3 linked regions of the Homo sapiens genome follow. The protein of the gene in region 1 purifies or fractionates together with the protein of each later gene. This does not show direct contact. Each region holds a gene or a part of one and is shown in the gene's direction. Other genes may lie near its edges.

Evidence for each region. The genes of interacting proteins can lie anywhere in the genome.
Region 2: the proteins of MTHFD1L (region 1) and TRAPPC6B purify together in Homo sapiens (affinity purification with mass spectrometry; one large-scale study listed by BioGRID and IntAct). This does not show direct contact.
Region 3: the proteins of MTHFD1L (region 1) and XPNPEP1 fractionate together in Homo sapiens (co-fractionation; one large-scale study listed by BioGRID). This does not show direct contact.

The regions. Positions count from the first base shown.
Region 1 is NC_000006.12:150,872,202-150,875,701, forward strand, and holds part of MTHFD1L (monofunctional C1-tetrahydrofolate synthase, mitochondrial isoform 2 precursor), read left to right. Parts: intron 1-3,500. UniProt on the Homo sapiens protein: May provide the missing metabolic reaction required to link the mitochondria and the cytoplasm in the mammalian model of one-carbon folate metabolism complementing thus the enzymatic activities of MTHFD2.
Region 2 is NC_000014.9:39,147,314-39,150,323, reverse strand, and holds the end of TRAPPC6B (trafficking protein particle complex subunit 6B), read left to right. Parts: 3' UTR 1-2,510; downstream 2,511-3,010. UniProt on the Homo sapiens protein: Component of a transport protein particle (TRAPP) complex that may function in specific stages of inter-organelle traffic.
Region 3 is NC_000010.11:109,913,512-109,917,011, reverse strand, and holds part of XPNPEP1 (xaa-Pro aminopeptidase 1), read left to right. Parts: intron 1-1,912; coding exon 1,913-2,001; intron 2,002-3,500. UniProt on the Homo sapiens protein: Metalloaminopeptidase that catalyzes the removal of a penultimate prolyl residue from the N-termini of peptides, such as Arg-Pro-Pro. Contributes to the degradation of bradykinin.

The DNA.
Region 1 (3,500 bases):
TGTATCCACGGGAGTAGCACTTTTAAATTTCTTCAATAGCTTTTCCTTTGCATTCACAGCTTGGCTAACTGTTTGGCTCAAGAGGCCTAGCTTTTGACCTATCTTGGCTTTCAATACACCCTCCTCACTAAGTTTAATTATTTCTCGGTTTTTATTTAAAGTGAGAGACCTGCAACTCTTCACTTGAACACTTAGAGGCCACTGTAGTTACTAATTGTCCTAATTTCAATATTGTTGTTTCTCAGGGAATAGGGAAGCCAGAGGAGAGGGAGAGAGAAGGGGGAACAGCCAGTCCAGTGAAGCAGTGAGAACACACACCATCATGAACCATCATGGCCACGGTTTGGCCAACACAATTACAACAGTAACATCAAAGATCGTCAATCACACATCACCAGAACAAACATACTAAAAATGAAAAAGTTTGAAATATTGTAAGAATTATCAAAATGTGACACAAATTGAGCAGATGCCATTGGAAAAATGACTCCCATAGACTTAAAACACAGGTTGCCACAAACTTTCAATTTGTAGAAAAACACAGTATCTGTAAATTGCAGTAAAGCAAAGCACAAAAAATGATGTATGCCTGTATTTTTTTTTCTATCCACATCCACCCCCCAACTTTTTTTTTTTTTTTGGTAGAGACCAGGTCTTGCTATCTTGCCCAGGCTGGCCTTGAACTCCTGAGCTCAAGTGATCCTCTCACCTCAGCCTCCCAAAGTGCTGGGATTACAGGCATGAGCCACTGCGCCCAGCCCCCATCCCCAACTATTTTAAAAGTCTAATTACTTTTTGACGATTGCCGACTTACCTATAGAAGTGTTCCTTTCAGCCCGGCGAGGTGGCTCACCCCTGTAATTCCAGCACTTTGGGAGGCCTAGGTGGGCGGATCACGAGGTCAAGAGATCGAGACCACCCTGGCCAACTTGGTGAAATCCTGTCTCTACTAAAAATACAAAAATTAGTGGGACGTGGTGGCATGCACCAGTAGTCCCAGCTACTCAGGAGACTGAGGCAGGAGAATCGCTTGAACCTGGGAGATGGAGGTTGCAGTGAGCCGAGATCGTGCCACTGCCCTCCAGCCTGGAAACAAAGTGAGACTCCGTCTCAAAAAAATAAAAAGAAGTGTTCCTTTCATCAACTATGAATGGATCAAGACTATGAATGTTTCTGAGAAAATTATTGCTGTTAGTAAGAATGTTTTTAGTGTTTAAGGGTAGCTTTGGGGCACAGAAAAAAACAAACGTACATTTATAAGAAAAAGGGGAAAGAGCCACTGTAGTATACCTGTTTTACAGATGAGGAATCTGAGACTCTTAGAGACTTGTCCACGCTAGTAAATGAAATGCCCAGTACCAATCCTGGGCCGTATTTCCACTTAGTGTCTCAGAATTACCTGGACTCTGTTAAAAATGCACATTTCTGGGCTCCACTGAGACACGTTGAATCAGACTTTCTAGGGCTGGAACTGTTATTTTTTTTGAGACAGAGTCTCGCTCTGTCACCCAGCTGGAGTGCAGTGGCATGATTTTGGCTCACTGCAGCCTCTGCCTCCTGGGTTCAAGTGATTCTCCTGCCTCAGCCTCCTGAGTAGCTCTGGGATTACAGGTGTGCACCACCATGCCTGGCTAATTTTTGTATTTTTACTAGAGATGGGGTTTCACCATGTTGGCCAGGATGGTCTCAAACTCCTGACCTCAAGTGATCCATTTCACCTTGGCCTCCCGAAGTACTGGGATTATAGGTGTGAGCCACTGCACCTGGCCTGGAACCTTTACTTTTACCAAACTCTCCAGTGATCCTTATACCATGAACCGCTTGGGTCCCACACTCCGGTGCTTTCCTGGACCCAGACAAAAATAAGAACCCAGCATAGCCAAATTAACAGTCACGACAGGCTGGAAAGAGTGCGGTATATGGGCCTCAGTCACCCATTATTGGATGGATGGATTTTAGTGCTTATTTATAAGGTGATTTGTAAACTTTCCCATATGGTCACATTTATTCAGCACAATAATACAATTAATTCCCTGGGAATGAAGTAGCTTTATCCCAAGTGTTTCCAAACAAAACTAACTGAAATGTTCCCAGGTTATAGACAGTTGCCTGCACCCAGTCCATCTGTTCCGGCCCAGCTGGCAGTAGAAAGACTGGTCCTGGTTGTGAATCTGAGCAGCTCTCTCCCCTAAAGCCCCGCCTGGGAACTGCAGTGCCTCTGGTTCCATTTGTCAGCTGTGTCTCTCTGAAAACTGGGGAAAGCTTCCCGATGCCTTTCTGCTCTTGGCAGTGTACCGTTGATGGCATTGGCTGGAACTTCTTCACCCCGCATTTTTGTTAGGTGCAGTGCAAGACCCTGTCGGAGACTGAAAACAAAATGTAAAGGTGGTCTTAGCACTGAAGCCTGGGGGCTCCTGTGGCTGCGCCTTTGGTCTATTGTGAGAGGGGGAAAAGCCAGCTCCCAGTGCTCATGTGCTGCTGAGAACATATCATAGGGTGGTGGCGAAGGTAGCCTCTGCAGTCACTCATCCCAGAAGGTTCCATAAAGAGCTGAGCTCCTAACACTTTTTTTTTTTTTTGAGACGGAGTCTTGCTGTGTTGCCCAGGCTGGAGTGCGGTGGCACAATCTCGGCTCACTGCAACCTCTGCCTCCCAGGTTCAAGAGATTCTCCCGAGTAGCTCAGATTATAGGCGCCTGCCACCACACCCAGCTAATTTTTGTATTTCTGGTAGAGACGGGGTTTCACCATATTGGCCACGGTGGTCTTGAACTCCTGACCTTGTGATCCACCCGCCTCAGCTTCCCAAAGTGCTGGGATTACAGGCGTGAGCCACCGCTCCTGGACTTTTTTTTTTTTTCTTTTTTTAAAAAGAAATTGAGTCTTGCTCTGCCACCCAGGCTGGAGTGCAGTGGTGCAGTCATAGCTTACTACAGCCTCAAACTCATGGGCTCAAGCGGTCCTCCAGCTTCAGCCTCCCAAGTATCTGGGACTACAGTCACGTGCCATCACGCCCAGCTAAATTGTTTATAGAGATGGGATCTCGTTATGTTACCCAGGCTGGTCTCAAACTCCTGGTCTCAAGCAGTCCTACCGCCTTGGCCTCTCAAAGTGCTGGGACTACAGGTGCATGCCACCATGCCAGGCCTTCTACCACTTTTACCTAGGCCTGCTCACCCCAGGCTGGCACCTCCCTCAGAGGTGGGAGGTGAAGGTGGCTGCTGCTGGGCATTTAGGAGGTACAGGTGCAGACTATGTTGTGGATTCTCAGAGGACTGAGAAGCTCTCTGTCTCTCTCTCTAGGAGGCTTTGATAGTGTTATCAAAGTGGGTCTCCAGTGTTTCTGGAACTTTCCTCCCCTTCCTTCCTTACCTAATTCCTTCTTTAAATTCCAGGACCTGGAATTTATCCTGTCTCGACACTTCTTGTCCAACAGTGAGCCCCCTGTCTTCACCCCCCTAATCCCCTGTCTTCACATCCCTCTTCCCACTTTATTTGCTT
Region 2 (3,010 bases), on another chromosome or scaffold:
AGTGTAAAGAGATAAATTATTCATGTAAAAGTATTTCAAGTAGTGATGATTTAATTACATTGTTCGATGTTTGTACAGGAGTAAGCATGTATTTTTATCAATTTAACACAGATCAAAGGAGATGAAGGGACATTCTGCCATGACATACACTTAACCAAAACTATTCAAAATGAAAACCGGATTTCAAATAACCAGACACCAAGATGCAGGGCCCTTATTTTAAACCTTTTTATTTGGTTAGAGTGATATGTATTTAGCCATAGATGGAGAAACAAAGCTCAGGGTTTGTTGAATTAGCATGAGAGAAAATTATGTACCAACAGAATTATTTGTGAGAAGAATGAACAAATTTTGATAAAGTATGAATTTGTTTTATTTTAAAAAGCAAACATACTAAATTTTTTTTATTTTATTGCTTATAATTTATTAAGAATGTTTACACCTGTATAAGGATTTCATATATACATTGTATGTGTGTATATATAAATACATATATGACTGCCTAAATTGTTTATAAATTTAATTTTTCTTTAATAGGTTTCATTCCTTCAGAGCTCCATTAATGTAATCAAAATGAAATATAGATTAGTTTAAATGTGAATTCAGTGACTCTAGGGCCAAAGAATATTAGGTATGTTTGGAAAGAATTTTTGTATTTATTCCTGTTACAGTTTTGACTTTCAACTTCTCTCCCCGTGCATGGAAGTCCTGGTAAAGGATCTAACATCTTTATTCCCTTCTTTCCTCTTCCAGCTGAGCAGAGTTGGATAATTGAATTAGTCATTCTGACATTCTTTGGACCATATCATCTTAGTGGTTTGGGGTCAGTGCTCATCTGATATATCTTTCTTACCACCTCTTCTACTTACTTTCTCTTACTTAAATTATCTGGCATAAGCAGTTATCTCCAGCTTTTGTTAGAATCTTGCATGTTGATTACTAAAACTATACTTTGTTTCCCATTTATTTATTACCCTTTTGCATGTATTTGTGTGACAGGGAACTCTGCAGCAGGGGGTGACTGACACACCAAACAAGATGTTTCACTGGGTACTCTGCCATAGAAATGGCAGATTAAGAAGATTGACTATACCAAACATTATATTAAAAACACAAAATAAAAACTATAAAAATGTACTTTAGGACATTAAAGAAAACTCAAGTTAGAAGCATACCATTTTCCTTTCATGGAAGGGTACAGTATTACAAAGATAATTTGTTTAACTTGATTTATTAAATTCTAGTTATGTGCCCTATAATGATGTTTCAGTCAGTGACAGACCTCATATATGGCAGTGGTTCCATAAGATTACAATACTGTATTTTTACTGTACCTTCTTTATGTTTAGATATGCAAGTACTTACCATTGTGTTACAGTGTCCTACAGTATTCACTACAATAATATGCTGTACAGGTTTGTAGCCTAGGAGCAATAGGCCATAGCTTAGGTGTATAGTAGATCATACCATCTAGGTTTGTGTAAGTACACTCTGTGATTGTACAATTTTAAAATCTCCTAATGATGATGCATTTCTCAGAATGTATCCCCTTTGCTAAGCAATGCATGACTGCAATCCTAATTCTCACATGTTTTGGGGAAAAAATTTTAATTTTGAAAAAATTTAGGAAAGTTCCTACCAAATATACATGTATAAAGTTTATTAAAAGTCATAATGACCCAGGAATAGCTAATGACACAGAAGTAGATCAAAATAGAACACAATAGAGAACTTCAAAATAAAACAGGTGTGAGAATTGTGTGTGTGAAAAAGCTGGGTTCAAATAAGTTGGTTTGTTAGACATTCATATGCCTACCCATCAGCCATTTCGTTCTCCCTTCCTTGCTGACAAAGCCCCATTTTTTTTTTCTTTTTTTTTGGCCTAAAACTCTGTATGGCTGCCTTGTGCTATAGAATAGGGTGCTTCCCTAGCCTAGAGAGGGTGAGTGTTGATTAGATTCTGTGCCAATCATGGTAATTGGCTTACTTGATCATTTGATGGAATCTAGGCTAACGAGACAAAGGAAGTCTGAAGGCTTTGAATAAGAAATTTTCTGTTGCTCTTAACAATTGATACAAGTTAGGGATTTGCCAGCATCCCTCTTCTGCTTCTCAGTGAAGATATGTGATATGGATGTTTGAAGCTAATCTGCAACAGCCTTCTGATGGCCATGAAAGGACAAGTATGGAGATGAAAGCTATCACACTGAGAATAGTGGGATGTAGATAGAAAGCACCTGAATTGTGCTTCTGAATTAACCAATCCAGGAACTGCTTTACCTTTGGACTTTTTGTTATGTGAGATATTCTTTATATTGTTCCATTTGCTTTGGGTATATGTATATTGTTACTTGTAGCCAAAAAGAAACCTCTCTTAGTAGAAACAAAGGGAGAGTTAGGTTATTCAAAAATTAGTATGGGACAATTGAATATGCCTTTTTCTGCGGGAGTAGGTGGGGAGAAACTTAAAGGTTCACTTGTAAAACAATAAAGTACTAAAGAAAATGTGATAATACTTTCGTGATTTTGTGGTGGAGAAGGCCTTTCCAACACACAAATGTAGGAAATCATAAAGGAAAACTATAAAACAAAGAAATGTAGTAAAATCTCTTCAACAAATAGTGTTGGGAAAACTGGACATCCACATACAAAAGAATGAAATTGGATTGTTGCCTTAATGCCATACATAGAAATCAACTTAAGGCCGGGTGTGGTGGCTCAAGCCTGTAATCCCAGCACTTTGGGAGGCCGAGGTGGGGCAGATCATGAGGTCAGGAGTTCAAGACCAGCCTGGCCAAACAGTGAAACCCTGTCTCTACTGAAAAAAATACAAAAATTAGCTGGGTGTGGTGGTGGGCGCCTGTAGTCCCAGCTACTTGGGAGGCTGAGGCAGGAGAATTGCTTGAACCCGGGAGTCGGAGGTTGCAGTGAGCCAAGATGGAGCCACTGCGCTCCAGCCTGGGCGACACAGTGAGACTCTGTCTCCAAAAAAAAAAAGAAATCAACTTAA
Region 3 (3,500 bases), on another chromosome or scaffold:
ATGATGTTAGCTGTAGGTTTTGTAATAACTTTTGTCAGGTTGAGGAATTTTTCTTCTAGTTTGCTGAGTACTTTTAACTTGAAGGGGCATTGGATTTTGTCGTGCTTTTTCTGCGTTTGTTGAGAAGACCATGTAGATTTTGTTCTTTATTCTATTGATATGGCCTGTTATAATAATTGATTTTTCATATATTGAGCCAACCTTGTATTCCTGGGATAAGACCCACTTGGCGATGATGATCCTTTTTATATTGTTCTAGATTCCGTTTGCTGGTATTTTGTTGAGGATATTTGTATTTATATTTTAGAAGACATATTGGGGTGTCTTACTTTTTTATGAAAGAATAATATGTTTACTCTCGTTAAGAACATCCCATTCTGTCCAGTAAAACTAAAGTCACAGCCATATGAAAGCAGGCCTAGAGTCATTGGTAAAGCTGCCTGGTTATCTGGTTCTTACCGTGTGGTAGACTGAGCTAATGTGTCCCTCTCTGTCTTTACCAACATGTAAAAATGCGGTTAAATTATAACTTAATTGAGTTCATAGCTGAGTAAAATTCAAAACCTTTTCTATGGCCCCACAGTAGGCCCCCTGGTGCCTCAATGATGTTGTCTCTGAACCACTTACCTCCCCATCCCCTGATACAATCACACTGCGCTGACCTTCTTGCTTTTCCTCAGGTAAACTAGACATACTCCTGCCTCATGGCCTTTGCACTTGCTGTTGTCCTGGAACATTGTTCCCCTAGCCGTTCACATGGCTTGCTTCCTCACTCTTTTTAGGTCTGTGTTAAAATGTTGTCTGTTATAATAGAGGCTGTCCCTGGCTACCCCATATGAAATAATCCTTCCCCTTACCTCCTTGATGCTTTCTTCCCCTTGCTGTGCTTTACTTTTTTTCACAAAACACGTTCTTATTACTTGACGTATTGTGTACTTGTTTTGTGTCTGTTGCCTTCTCTTCCCTGTCTTCTGCCCATCCCCCTGCCTTGCCCCATCTTAATTTGTTAAAGTCAGAGATCTTGTCTGTTTTGTTCACTGTTGTGTCCAGAATAGGGCCTGGATTATGGAAGATTTTTCAATAAATATTTGTTGACTGAATGAACTTGAAAGAAAGAGAAATCCTCAAGTGCCAAAAATGTAGAGGGAACCTAACGCCTGAGTGGTATGCTAGTAACCTGAGCCTGGGAAAGTTACCAGATGCAGATATAGACCTTCATGCCTGGTGTCCAGGGCATTAGACTATCCCCATATGGGAACAAGAAGTTTGTGTGTAAATCTTCTAGCTAATAAATTAATGTGAAAGTCTTAGAAGCAAACAATAACAGAACTGCTTGTACAAACCAGGACCCATCACATTCTCATAGATAAATAGCCTCTATTGAAGATAAGCTCTTAATAAAAGATCACAAAACGCAGAAGGAATGAACCACCAAGAGGGAGAGGCAGCAGACCTAGCAAACATGAGGGTTAGTCTCCCAAGATCTATTTGAAAGTATGGGAGAAATTATAAAATAAGGGCCTACAGTAATGAAGGCACAAAGAGAAGGCATAGAAACCAGAGTGCAAGAATAGGACACCATAAAGAAAGAACGGGCAGATGTGAAAAAGAACCAAATAGAACTTGTGTAAGGAAAAAACATTGAAAATAAGTCTTCTTAGTCTAGTTAAATAGGAGGTGTGAGAATTTATGAACTAGAAGCTGCAACTGAGAAGGTTAACCTGCCATGGGGATGTTTTACACCTGCAAGTTTTACATCAAACTTTTATTTATTCTGCCACTGATAATGGGGGTGAAAGTTCTTCTGACTCATGTTAGAGAACTGCTAAGTTAAGCGATGCCTCCTCTAACTGAGCCTTGCCACGTTTATTGTGGTCAAAGTCTGCAACTTCCTGTTCTTTCTCTCCTTAAGGGTGAATCACCAGGATTTTCAACTGAGAAATTTAAGAATAATTGAACCTAACGAGGTGACACACTCAGGAGACACAGGTGTGGAAACAGGTAATAATTTTGTCTGGAAATTAGATGGAACATCTGTAAAGGATTTTAGATCTCCACCCCAACCCCAGGTTGGGTGAGAAGAAGAGGGTAAGGAATTAGTAACAGATCATGACTGGGGGTTAGTATCTGGAAGTTAAAAACCATTTTATTTTTTGGCTTCCTAAGTGGTTGGTTACTGTTTCTATATATTTACCATTTTTTTTTTTTTTTTTTGAGACGGAGTCTCGCCCTTGGTCACCCAGCCTGGAGTGCAATGGCGTGATCTCGGCTCACTGCAACCTCCGTCTCCCGGGTTCAAGCGATTCTCCTGCCTCAGCCTCCGGAGTAGCTGGGATTACAGGCGCCCGACACCACGCCCAGCTAATTTTGTATTTTTAGTAGAGATGGGGTTTCTCCATGTTGGCCAGGCTGGTCTTGAACTCCCGACCTCAGGTGATCTGCCCGCCTTGGCCTCCCAAAGTGCTGGGATTACAGGCATGAGCCACTGCGCCTGGCCATTACCATTTTTTTTTAAGGTAGTAAGTTAGAGAATTACAACTTTTTTTTTGTTGTTTGTTTTTTTCGTTTTCCATTTTTGTCAGAGTGGTGGTGGTGGAGAAGGAGATAGGTTATTATGGAAAATGTTCTCTATTTCTCTAATATAGTCCTTCATTATCTTAGAAATTAGCTTTCAATTTTGATCATAAGATTGCAAAATGAGAAAAGCTTGTAATATATTATTGTCCTTTATAAATTGAGTGTGCATTTAGGAAAGTCTTTTTGGGAAATATTTCTTGGCTGTCCCTTCTCCCCAGAACTGGTTAATTGTCTGATGGGTTGCCAGAAACCTGAATTCTGAAAAGTGGTGTATTACTGTATTTCTATCCCAGTAAGCCAGTACTGCTCTAACGACTACTAAGGAGAACCATGTGTTTTTTTTTTTTTTAGCTGACTGAAAAATTGATCTCTTGAAGTACATAAGAAACCATGCCCGTCTAATCTCTGTTTGGAAGATCAGTGCTATAATTGCATGCAATTTTAGATCCTTTTTCTTTAAAAAATATAGATGTATCCAACACATTTTGGACCATATTAGGAGGTAGCAGAGGAAGGAGGAAAAAGAGAAAGTAAAGAAAGGAAAAAAGTGATGGAATCATTAAACTTAGAGTTGGAAGATAACTTCTTTTTCTTTTTGTAATGTATGAGGAAATAGAGGTTAGGTAGCTTCAGTTGCCTGAGGTTGTAGATCCCAGCTGGAAACTGGAGCTCACTTGTTTTGCTTCTGTTGGTCTTAGAACACTTTAAGGCTCTATTATGTCCCCCAGCTAATATGGTGTAATAGAGCATGGACTTGGGAATTGCATAGACCTTGAGTCCCGGTTCCTGATGAACCAGCTGACTTTGGGCAAGTACTTAACTCCTTTTAACTCCTGTTCCTTTATGTGTAAAATGAGAATAGTGAAACCTCCCTTGGAGGATTGTTGTGAGAATTAGCCACTAATGTATGTAAAGCCCTTAGC